Homo sapiens: one gene and its partners. The protein of the gene in region 3 purifies or fractionates together with the protein of the main gene of each other region. This does not show direct contact. Each region holds a gene or a part of one and is shown on either strand. Other genes may lie near its edges.

Region 1 (3,899 bases), on a different chromosome or scaffold from region 3:
TTGAGAGTTTCTTTCTTATGCATAATCCAGACAAATTTTTTTGGTACAGAGTGTTAATTTTTGTTAAGAGACATATTCTGTCTTTATCACAGTGGTATGTATAACAACTAATCCTGTCCAGTATGGTCCAGGTTATTTATTAGATTAATGATTTGGAATCCTGCTTAACTCTAAATCCATTTTAAGTTTACCTGTGTTTCATGGCAAATGTGGTTGATAAGTTGAAAGTGTAACTTTAAATTTTTGGTGTAACTTGATTTTGTTCGTTCCCAGGTGGTGATCAGGGAAGTGGCTTTGGGACCACAGGTAAAGCTCCTGTTGGTTCTGTGGTTTCAGTTCCCAGTCAGTCAAGTGCATCTTCAGACAAGTATGCAGCTCTGGCAGAACTAGACAGCGTTTTCAGTTCTGCAGCCACCTCCAGTAATGCGTATACTTCCACAAGTAATGCTAGCAGGTACCTTGTCTTAGCTAGCCCTCCTGCTTTGTGTTTTATCTTTTTTTTCCAACTTTGAATAATCAATTAAAAAATGACTGTTTCAAGGTATAATTTTAAAATTCTTGGATATTTTTGTAAATTTGAGGAATTTGAATTTAAATGCTAATTAAAATATAATCCTTGAATAATTGCCATAATTTTATCTTTTCATTGAATCAGACGTTTTGTTATGTTCTGTCCTTGAACACTAAACCGTATTTGAGAGCATGTACACATCTCAAAATGGACAGTTCCTTACAGATTGTACTCAGCAGAGAATCCATTTAGTAGTCAAATAATATACTTTAAAAATAGTTTTTAGTCATGATGATTAAACAGTGAAAGTCCCATATTATAGGCTTAGTTGTAAATACAGATTTTTAGAAGTGTTTGCACCAAAGCCCAAAATCAATTCTGTATCTCTTCAGTGTCATCCTCATATTTACAAATAAGCACATCTGCTGTTATGTTCATATATATCTGTTAGAATTCTTGGCAGTAGGAAGTCTAACACATTTTAGGACATTACACTTGTAAAAAACTTTTCTAGTCTTTATTTTAGAGTTGCGGAAATAGTCTCAGAAATACAAGAGATTTACCTATAACAATGTTTTATTCATCTCTGTTTTCCAATCCTGTGGATTGTATTTACTAATTTCTTTAGTTATCCTGGTAGCTTATTTTCCTTTAGCATCTTTTCTAGAAAGAAATGTTAGGATTGTAACACTTCCGGAAACATAAAGTCTGGAAACATACTTTATATATAATACATGATTTATTGATATTACATTACAGTACATCAGGGGTTCACAAACTGTGGTCCATGGAATGTTTGGGGTACCTGAGACCCTTTCATGGGGTCTGTGAGGTTAAAACTTTCTTTATAATAATTCTGAGAGATTGTTTACCTTTTCATTAATTGATATTTGCATTGATGGTGTGAAAACAATGGCAAGTAAAACTTGCTGGTGTCTTTTTATTTTTTTTTAATACTTTAAGTTCTAGGGTACATGTGCACAACGTGCAGGTTTGTTACATAGGTATACATGTGCCATGTTGGTTTGCTGCACCCATCAACTCATCATTTACATTAGGTATTTCTCCTAATGCTATCCCTCCCCCAGCCCCCCACCCCCGACAGGCCCCCAAGTGTGATGTTTCCCACCCTGTGTCCATGTGTTGTTCTTGTTGTTCAACTCACACCTATGAGTGAAAACATGCAGTGTTTGGTTTTCTGTCCTTGTGATATAGTTTGCTTAGAATAATGGTTTTTGCTGGTGTTTTAACATGAATATTAAGATAGTGGCACCAAACTGTACTAGTCGTTACAATAGTCATATTCCTTCCCACTACACATTCAGTTTTACTTGTATTTTTTATTTTTTTATGATGATTCTTAATGAAGCAGTAACAATTGTTTATTTTATTACATCTTTACACTTAAATGTCTTAATTTTCTTTGTGTTGATACTGATGCTGTGATACACGATATGTTCATTATTTTATGGCTACCCTGTAAATCGTTACTTTCTTTTTTTTTTAAGAAAAAAAATGAACTCTTTCAATATTTGTTCTCAGCAATGTTTTTGGAACAGTGCCAGTGGTTGCTTCTGCACAGACACAGCCTGCTTCATCAAGTGTGCCTGCTCCATTTGGAGGTATGTGCTTCTGGTATATACACTGGTTTTTACAAAGAACCCAAATATATATTGTGTAGCATTTTCTTAGGAGTCAAAGCAATGATTTGTTATCAGAATCCTTGAGTTTTCTGTCTTGATAAATATAGTGAAATAATTTAAATCTTAAATACAAAATGTATTAGGATTTTATAGTGTATTTTATAATTTTTTAAAGCTACGCCTTCCACAAATCCATTTGTTGCTGCTGCTGGTCCTTCTGTGGCATCTTCTACAAACCCATTTCAGACCAATGCCAGAGGAGCAACAGGTAAGAAAAAGAGACAGTGGAACAGTAAGTTTTGGGGAAGACATTTATCAACAAAGACACCATGTGAAGAACACCAGAAAATGGGGCCTCTTTCTTAGTGAAGTGAATGGCAATGGATAGAAGAGTTTGTCCATAAAGACAAATTCTAGCTGAAAGTTCATAAAATCCTGGAATTTAACAGTTGAGAGGGACCTTAGAAATTATCTAGTGTCTGCCCTTTCCAGTTAAAGCTTTCATTTTTCAGGTAGGGAAGCCCAGACATGGAGATGAGACTCCACAGAACGTTTATGACAGAGATAGGACTTGAACAGAGCAATTTAGATGTATTTGGTGGTCTGGTTTCAGAATTACTGGTTGTCACTCATGCAGTCTTAATGGAACCATTTTATGAGAAGTTTTTATTTTCCCTATGAGATTGCATCAGATGACTTTACTACATGAATTCTTAATTATTAGGTCTTTTTCTAGTGAATATCTCTTTCAGGTGTTAACATTTTTTAAGTTGTGGAAACTTGATTCAGTCGTGGGTATAATACTGAATATTTTCTCTTTTGATAATTTTTTCCCTTAATTCTCTTTGTTGTCTCCATTTTATTTTTTGATTCATACTGTAAGCCATTCACATCTTTCTCATGTTATACCTCTGATTTTTGTCGTATTACCTTAAACACCAGAGATATTTGCCAGTATCTTGGAATGTCAGCAGGTGCATTTGGTATGGCTGGGTATCCATTAAATCTAGAGTTTGTATGCTTTGTTTTTGTGTATATGTCACAATAATTTAGAACTAAAGCCTAAACTCCAGTTATAGCAAATGTTGATATGAACTCTTGAGAGATTAGGTACTTGTAACATTTTAATCAAACCATTAAGAATTACTAGTTTTTAGTAAATCTCTTTGTCATTGACAAGATTAAGAATCACAGTATTAGGAGTTTGAGCTGTAACTATTTTCTTTTCACATAAATGTCTTCACTTATACTCTGTTGGTAAGTAGCATAATAGATGTTTGATAAGTATTGGAATTTCACACAAAATTTAACTTTAAAAAAAGTTTAATTCAAGTGTACCTAATGAATGATTGTTTTAAATTTCCATTTGTACAATTTATCAGGTGTGTGATATGTGCAGTGTTTCTGTTTCTTAGCATACTGTTTTGATTTTGTGGACTGAGTTTGTAAAATGTCTCATGATACAATGGGTTTTTGTACATTGCCTCATTTAATCCACTCAGCTGTCATCAAATAAATATTTTAATTGTGTGACAGCTGAGGGAACAGGCCCAGAAAAGTTAATTGAACATATTTTGAGTACAGCCAGCCAAACTTGTGTTCGAATTCTGATTTATAGTTACTTGCAGGTTGACCATAAGAAAGCCTTTTGAATTTTGTTCTTTTAATGAATGGGGTAAGAATGATAGGGGGATGTTCAAACATTTATTGTGATAAAGTTGTTCACAAGATGCTATTGAGATATT
Region 2 (3,899 bases), on a different chromosome or scaffold from region 3:
CCTGGGGAGAAAACTGGTTTTGAAAATCTAAAAAAGGCAGATGAAAATGACTCAATATTTTTAGTTTAGGAGATGAGGTAGATTAGTGATCTAGAAATGCTATTTAGCCATATGACTTACTTCATAGGGTTGAGTCTTTCTCTCGCTCCACACTCCTCCCAAAAATGAGTACACACTGATATTCTACACTAAACATACAATCTAATAATAAAAATAGAAAAAGGGGGTATTTTTGGTTTCTCTGAAAGACTATCCTTCTAAAGTAATACACAGTTACCACTCAATGGTGGCATGCAACATCCTACATCTCAGTGAATTCATTTAATCTATACCAATAAAAAGTTACTTTAAAAGAAAAACAATGAGAAATATACAATATAGCTAGAAGGGATAAACATATATTCAATAACTATCTTGTATCATCTAAAGCAAAATGGAAAAATCAAAAAAAATTTCAACATTCCACTAAAGTAGTAACACCTTTTCTAAATCAATGAGATACATGCAGCATTTAACGTAAGAAACAAATAGTATATTATAAATTAAACTCTAAGAAATATTTTGAAGTAAAAACTACAATAATCAATTTTTAAAACCTCAAGCACTAAGGGTCATTTTAATTGTTAAATAACAAAAATTTTGAGGAAACCACAAGCCTAGGCCTATCCTACATTGCTTACCTTTCCTTGTATTGGGTTAGCAACTGATAAAGTTTTTCTGTTTCTCCGCTTTCATACAGGTAGTCTGCTTGTTCAAGTATTTCTTCAACTTCAAAGATTATAAAGGAAAAAAGACACAATAAAATAGGTCTTCCCAAGTCAGATGACAATAATTCAAAGAAACTTAAACACTTTTATATATAAGCAAATGAAATTAGATACAGAAATGACCTACAATGAAACAGCAGAAATTAGGAAGAACCTAGATGGAAACAAAGTAGAAATAAGCATAATGCTATCATAAAAAATGATTTATTGAAATCATGGGAAATAAAAAATTAGAAAACTTACTCTGGTAGTGACTAAATATGAAACACTAACAATAAATATAACACTAACGATAGCTGATGAGCTAAAAAAATTCCAAAAACTCTCATAATATTTTAAGAAAGTTTACTTATCTGTGTTGGGCCAGATTCAAAGCTGTCCTGGGCTCCATGTGGCCTAGGGGCCGCAGGTTGGACAAGCTTGCTCTACACAGTCTTTGTTGTTGCTGCTGTTAACTACCAACCATTGTAGAAAATAAAAGTCATCTACTTAAACAGCACTGAATGTTAGTAATTTGCATGAACCAAACCACACTGTTTTAATAAATTCTCTTTATACAGAGATGTTGTTCAAAGGGTCAGAGCTGTCATCAGAAATTTAGATGAAGCTAACTACACACTAAATCTGGAACTTACTGACACTATGCTCTGACTGACTCTTAAAACTAATTTATATATGACTACAAAATACATAAACATTATTGACAGTGTAGTGCCCTAAGAAAACTGTCTACTTAATGAAAAAAACAGTCTGAATTTCGGGAAATTCCAATTATTATTCAGAAACATGTACATTTAATTTTGTCTTCTATAAGGGTACTGTACTACTTAGTCCTAAGCCAAGATTCCAATGTGTATACACTTGGTATACTTTAATTAATCACAGTATACTTGAGGTTAAAAGGGTTTCTTGGCTGGGTGCGGTGGCTCACATCTGTAATCCTAGCACTTTGGGAGGCTGAGGTGGGAGGACCACCACGTCAGGAGATTGAGACCAGCCTAGCCAACATGGTGAAACCCCATCTCTACTAAAAATACAAAAATTAGCTGGGCGTGATGGCGTGCGCCTGTAATCCCAGCTACTTGGGAGGCTGAGGCAGAAGAATCGCTTGAACCCGGGAAGCAGAGGTTGCAGTGAGCCATGATCGCTCCACTGCACTCCAGCCTGGGCGATACAGCAAGACTCTGTCTCAAAAAAAAAAAGGGGGGGGATGGGGGTAGTTCTAGTTTTTAAAAAATTAGCAAAAAGAAAAATACAATGAAATTTGTGATGCAATCGTGTTTTTAAGTTAACATCATAATGTAATAATTATACTAGTTAAGAAATTAAATGACAATGGCAAAAAAAACCCCTAAAATTAAATAAAGATTATTTTTCTCAGTAATCCCACTTCATTCTGATTAGGTGTTATAAAGTTTAATAATATTCATATGGCTGGTTAATTTTTCAAATTTTGCTTCCACTCTATTCTATATTTTTATCGGATACGTGGCTGAATCACAAAGTTTGTGTTTTAACAACCCAAAGGATAAGGAGTAGTCTTTATTCTTTAGTTGATATTTATGGTAGGTAGAATAATGGCCCCCAAAGATGCCCCAATCTTAATCCCTGGAATCTGAATGTTTGGTTACATGTCAACGGTGAACTGTAGATAGAATTAAGGCTGCTAATCAGCTAATATTAAAACAGGAAATTATCCTGGATTACCCAGGTAGGCCCAATATAATTACAAGAGTCCTGAAAAGTGAAAGAGGAAGGCAAAAGTCAGAGAAGGAGTGTCAATGGAAACAAGATCAGAATGATGATTTGATGGTGGTTCTGAACATGGAGGAAGACACCTTCAGCCAAAGAATGCAGAAAGCCTACAGACACTGAAAAAAGCAAAGAAAGGGAATATTCCCTAGGGTCTCTGGAATGCAGCTCTCCCAATGCTGATTTTAGCCAGTCAGACCCATTTTTGGCTTCTGAACGGCAAGATACAGAACTAAAGAACCCTAAGATAATAAATTTGTGTTGTTTAAGTCACTGAGCTTGTCACAGCAGTGAAAGAAAATTAATATTAAATATATTGATCTGGCATATTTGAATGTGTACATAGTATGTATAAGTAAAAAAGTTACTTTTAAATATATTCATTGATTATTCTCTGACTTACTAAAAAGACTAATTACTGTCCTTAACATGATCCAGGAATTCTAAATCACATTACTCATGCGATTAAAAATGTAGAAATTGTCAGCCAGGCATGGCAGCTCACGCCTATACTCCCAACACTTTGGGAGGCTGAGGTGGAAGGATCACTTGACCCCAGAAGTTCAAGACCAGCTTGGGCAAGATGGCAAGACACCATATCTTTAAAAAAAAAAGTAGAAATTTAGTGAATAATCTAAATCTTTTTTGTGTGCATTCTTTTATAATCTCTCAAATAACTTAGCTCCAAATTACATAAATACTATAAGCTATAATATAATGGCTTTAAATATATATATAAATTTATTTATTTATTTATTTATTTGAGATGGAGTCTCACTCTGTCGTCAGGCTGGAGTGCAGCGGCACTATGTCGGCTCACTGCAACCTCTGCCTCCCAAGTTCAAGCGATTCTCCTGCCTCAGCCTCCTGAGTAGCTGAGACTACAGGTGCGCACCACCACGCCCAGCTAATTTTTTGTATTTTTAGTAGAGACAGGGTTTCACCATGTTGGCCAGGATGGCTTTGATGTCTTGACCTCGTGGTCTGCACTGCAAAAAATCAGTGTATGATTTTTTCTAAAATCAAACACTGTACAATTTATAAGAAAAAAGTACACTTCCTATGGTACTACAGACTGACATAGGCACTCGGGTGAGAGCTTGTAGACAACTCCACATATCCGCAAATCAGTTGTTTTCTAACCTAACATTTTATACTATCTTGAAAATATTTACAACTAAGTTACATTACTAACATAGAGACCATATTCTATAAAACAGACTAAACTTTTAATGTAAATTATTTTCAACTTAATAAGCAAATATTCTAAGATGAAATGACATGTTAATTCACCTAAAACTGTATAGTGAAATCTTAAATGTAACCTAAAATAGATATGTGCAAGATCATAATAATTAGAATTTTTTAAAGAAATGCCAA
Region 3 (3,899 bases):
TCACTAAGTTCACACAAAAGTCAGTTTTTGCCTTGTGCAAAGCAGCATTTGCAACACTGTAATCAGATAATACAGCACCTGACCTAAAAATATTGGCCAACCAAACCTTACGGAGTAGAACCCTTAACTCATCACCTCATGTTCCAGCCAAGAAGACAAATTCAATGTTCCCATGGTTTCAGTACATCTCAAGTTCTCCCTTTCAGAAAGTCCCCTTCGACCCTACTTTGTTTTCTTCCTGTTTTTCTACCATGCCCTTGTTTTTTCTTTTGCCCTTTTAGTTACCTCCCTTTCAGAACCAAGACTGAGCTTCTCCCTCAGGAGCAGTATACCTACTAGTTATTTCTAGTCCTAGTTACAAAGAATAGAGCCTGTCCTGCCCAAGGCCCACCATGTAACAGGTGCTCTAAGGAAGGGGTCACCAACCCCCAGAAGCTGTCCGTGGCCTGTTAGGAACCAGGCCATGCAGCAGGAGGTGAGCAGTGGGCCAGCGAGCCAGGGAAGTTTCATACGTATTTACAGCCACTCCCCATGGCTCGCGTTACCACCTGAGCTCTGCCTCCTGTCAGATCAGCAGCAGCGTTAGATTCTCACAGCAGCGCGAACCCTATTGTGAACTGCACATGCAAAGGATTTAGGTTGTGCAATGTAATGCTTGATGATCTGTCACTGTCTCCCATCACCCCCAGAGGGGGACCGTCTAGTTGCAGGAAAACAAGCCCAGGGCTCCCAGTGATTCTACATTATGGTGAGTTGTATAATTATTATATATTACAATGTAATAATAATAGAAATAAAGTGCACAATAAATGTAATGCACTTGAATTATCCCGAAACCATCTCTGCCTGCCTCCCCGCACCATGATCCATGGAAAAATTGTCTTCCACAAAACCAGTCCCTGGTGCCAGAAACGCTGGAGACCACTGCTCTAAGGCACAGTCCCCAGACTTCACTTATTGGGAAGATCGGCCGCAGTGTAGAATTTCTCACATTGCTTGGGATTTTTCAGTAGGACCTTTGTCTCTACACAATAACAGAGAATACTGTCAACATATCTGGTATGAAAATTAGTGAAGAGAAAAATCATAAATTTGATTTGAATACGTAAGAACATTATTAATTTTAGCCACTTAAACGCGAGCCATTTGCTTTTTGCTTTTTAGGCCTAATCACTTTGGAACATAAGCACATAATTAAAAATATATGCAGGTAACCTTGTTGTAAATTGACTTGATTTTAGCAGTATGCTATTTATTTCTGCCCAGCTTTCATAACTTACTCATTTTGCATGAAACTGTTTATATCTTTAAAAAAAATTAGAACATACTAATAACCAGGTGCTTGTGAGTACAGCCATGTAATATTTGAATTGTTTTGCTTATCTTATTCTGTATTTCTCTGAAACTGTTTTCTGTTTACCTCTTGCTAAATGTCAAAGTGAGATACTTTTTGTAAATCTCTTACCAGAAAAACTAAAAGTCCAAGATAGATTAAAAAGATAAGGGAACTGCTGAAGCTGATAGAGTCAGTCCATGATCGTTGAAAAATTGCTTTCTTCCATCTGGTTTCTAATCATTTTCAAACACTCAGTTGCTGTAGACCTATAAAAGACTCGTTTTACCTTTTAAGGAACACAGCTGCTTTCAGAATGAGATTGGAAACTGTGGACCCTAGATCCAGTAGAATGCACTTTTGCGCACACCCTAAACAGTCTGACATTTGATTTCAGAAAGTTAATAGCCCCAAAGAAGTCCTTGGAGCCCAGATTAAGAACTCTTGTCTTACGTGACTTTTGACTTTAAGACCAGCTAACTGCTTATTTAAATACCTGCATATCCCATAAGCCCTTCAAACCTAAGCGAAGTGTGTGTTCTTTCATGCCCCTGTTCTCTTCCCCCATCACACACACAGCAAAACTGGAACATCTTTGTTCATTTGCTTCATTAATAGAAGCCATTTATGTGGCCTTTCAGGCCAAAAACAGTCAGGCTTTCCTCTACTGCCCTCTCACACAGCCAGTCAGCCATTAAGACTTAAGCTTATTTCAAAAATGCCTCCTAAATCTGGTGCTCACATCTACTTTATTCAACAGGAGTCCAAGCCCCCACTCTCTCTTTGAATAAACTAAACTAGTATCTTTCTAGCTGGTTTCCTGTCACCTATTTTCTGCACTGATGTCAGAGTTGTCTTTCTAATAAGTCTGTTTGAAAGACAGCCATGTCATCCTATTCTTAAAGAATTCTGTTATTCCTCCAGTGCCAGTGTGGTAAAGTTCAAAACATTTAGCCTAACAGTATGCCTTTTTAGCCTTTTTTCTCAAAACTTCCTGCTGCATTTGCTGTTCTCTTTCCTTGAGAGCTCTGTCTTCCCACAAAATCTTAGATGTCATCTCTGTGAAGCATTTTTTAGCTACCCCAAGTAAAGTTAATTGTTCCCTCTTCTGTGGTTCTACAATGTTCTGTTCCTCAATTACGGTATCTACCATAAGATTATAATCTTTTGTTCACATTCTGCCCCTCCCATAGTCTGTGAGCTGACTGCTGGGAGAGTCCATGTCATAGTCATCTTTGCTTTTATAGGACTTGAACTGTGCCTGGCAGATAATAGGTAATCAGAAAATGCTTTTGTATGAATAAATGTAGTATTTTACCAGCTCACTTTAGAATTTGGTTTGTCATTCTGACAAACCTAAAAGTTGTATGGAACATATTTTTTAATGAAGGGAGATAATCCTATTTTGAAATGCAAATACCAAGTAAATAGACTTTGGAATTTGTAGTGTAAAAGCCAAAATTACTTTTTCAGTTCCTTTATTGTTAATAACAGAATTAAAATGTGATTTCCTTTCATTCTAGTACTGGCGTCAGGTGTACTTGATCACAGTGCTTGCTATGATCCTGGCAGTGTTCTTTGCGCAGATTCATCCCAATTACCTCACGCAGCAATGGCAAAGGCTCCGTTCTATCATCTTTTGTTCTGTTTCGGGATATGGAGTGATTCCTACTCTTCACTGGGTTTGGCTCAATGGAGGAATTGGTGCTCCTATTGTACAGGTAGGTTGAGTGTAGTTAATATTTTTCTCTTTTTTTTTTTCCTTTCAATTTTATTCCTTTTGGGTAAAGTAGTATAATCAGGCCAAGTGGGTAGATGTTTGTCATTTGAGAACATATTTGTAATTGCATGTTGATGCCGTAATTTTCACAGCCATATAAATAAGCATACCTTGCAGAAGTCGAGGTAAAATCTGAATACTGATTTTCTCTGAGTTGTCTTTCTGTAAAAAAAAATACATTATTATTCTCTATTACCCTTAGTATATAAATACCCAAGTCCTTATTTGTGGAGGAGGACTCCAAAGTTTCTAGCTTTGTCTGCGGGATCAGTGATAATGCCAATGATAACGCAAGTATAGAAATAGGAGCAGTTGATCTTTTAGGGGGTGAAGGGAGGTTGGGAAGGATTTTTTTTGTTGGACCCGATGAGTGTGGGGTACCCATTGGATGTAAAGGTAGAGATAGGATCTGGGATTTCAGCCAGAGTTTGAGACTGGCAATAAAGATTTGGAAATCATCATTGTATTGGTAGCTGGAGCCAGGGAAGCATGTTCAATCCACCAAGGAGAATATATTGAGAAATAAAAGAAGAGCTATTTGTTAGAATCAGGTATTATGGGGGAACAGTTGATGTGCATTAGGAAGAGTCTCAGTGAGAACTCAGGATTCTTGAGAAAAGGATTAGAAATAAGACTTACATTTTTAGAGATCATTACAAAAATGCTGTACATATGCACTAGAGAGTAAACTTGAGAATTTTTAATACAAGTAAATAGGCCAAGAAATCTGACAGAAATCACATATACTCATTGCAATGGTACCTTTGTCTAGAATGTGTGACTTTA

The links.
Region 1: the proteins of PAQR3 (region 3) and AGFG1 purify together in Homo sapiens (affinity purification with mass spectrometry; one large-scale study listed by BioGRID and IntAct). This does not show direct contact.
Region 2: the proteins of PAQR3 (region 3) and RMDN1 purify together in Homo sapiens (affinity purification with mass spectrometry; one large-scale study listed by BioGRID and IntAct). This does not show direct contact.

What each region holds. Positions count from the first base shown.
Region 1 is NC_000002.12:227,534,572-227,538,470, forward strand, and holds part of AGFG1 (arf-GAP domain and FG repeat-containing protein 1), read left to right. Parts: intron 1-273; coding exon 274-454; intron 455-2,053; coding exon 2,054-2,133; intron 2,134-2,329; coding exon 2,330-2,422; intron 2,423-3,899. UniProt on the Homo sapiens protein: Required for vesicle docking or fusion during acrosome biogenesis. May play a role in RNA trafficking or localization.
Region 2 is NC_000008.11:86,487,872-86,491,770, forward strand, and holds part of RMDN1 (regulator of microtubule dynamics protein 1), read right to left. Parts: intron 769-3,899; coding exon 681-768; intron 1-680.
Region 3 is NC_000004.12:78,925,676-78,929,574, reverse strand, and holds part of PAQR3 (progestin and adipoQ receptor family member 3), read left to right. Parts: intron 1-2,856; coding exon 2,857-3,054; intron 3,055-3,899. UniProt on the Homo sapiens protein: Golgi-scaffold protein which modulates its interactors acitivies by anchoring them to the Golgi apparatus. Functions as a spatial regulator of RAF1 kinase by sequestrating it to the Golgi apparatus.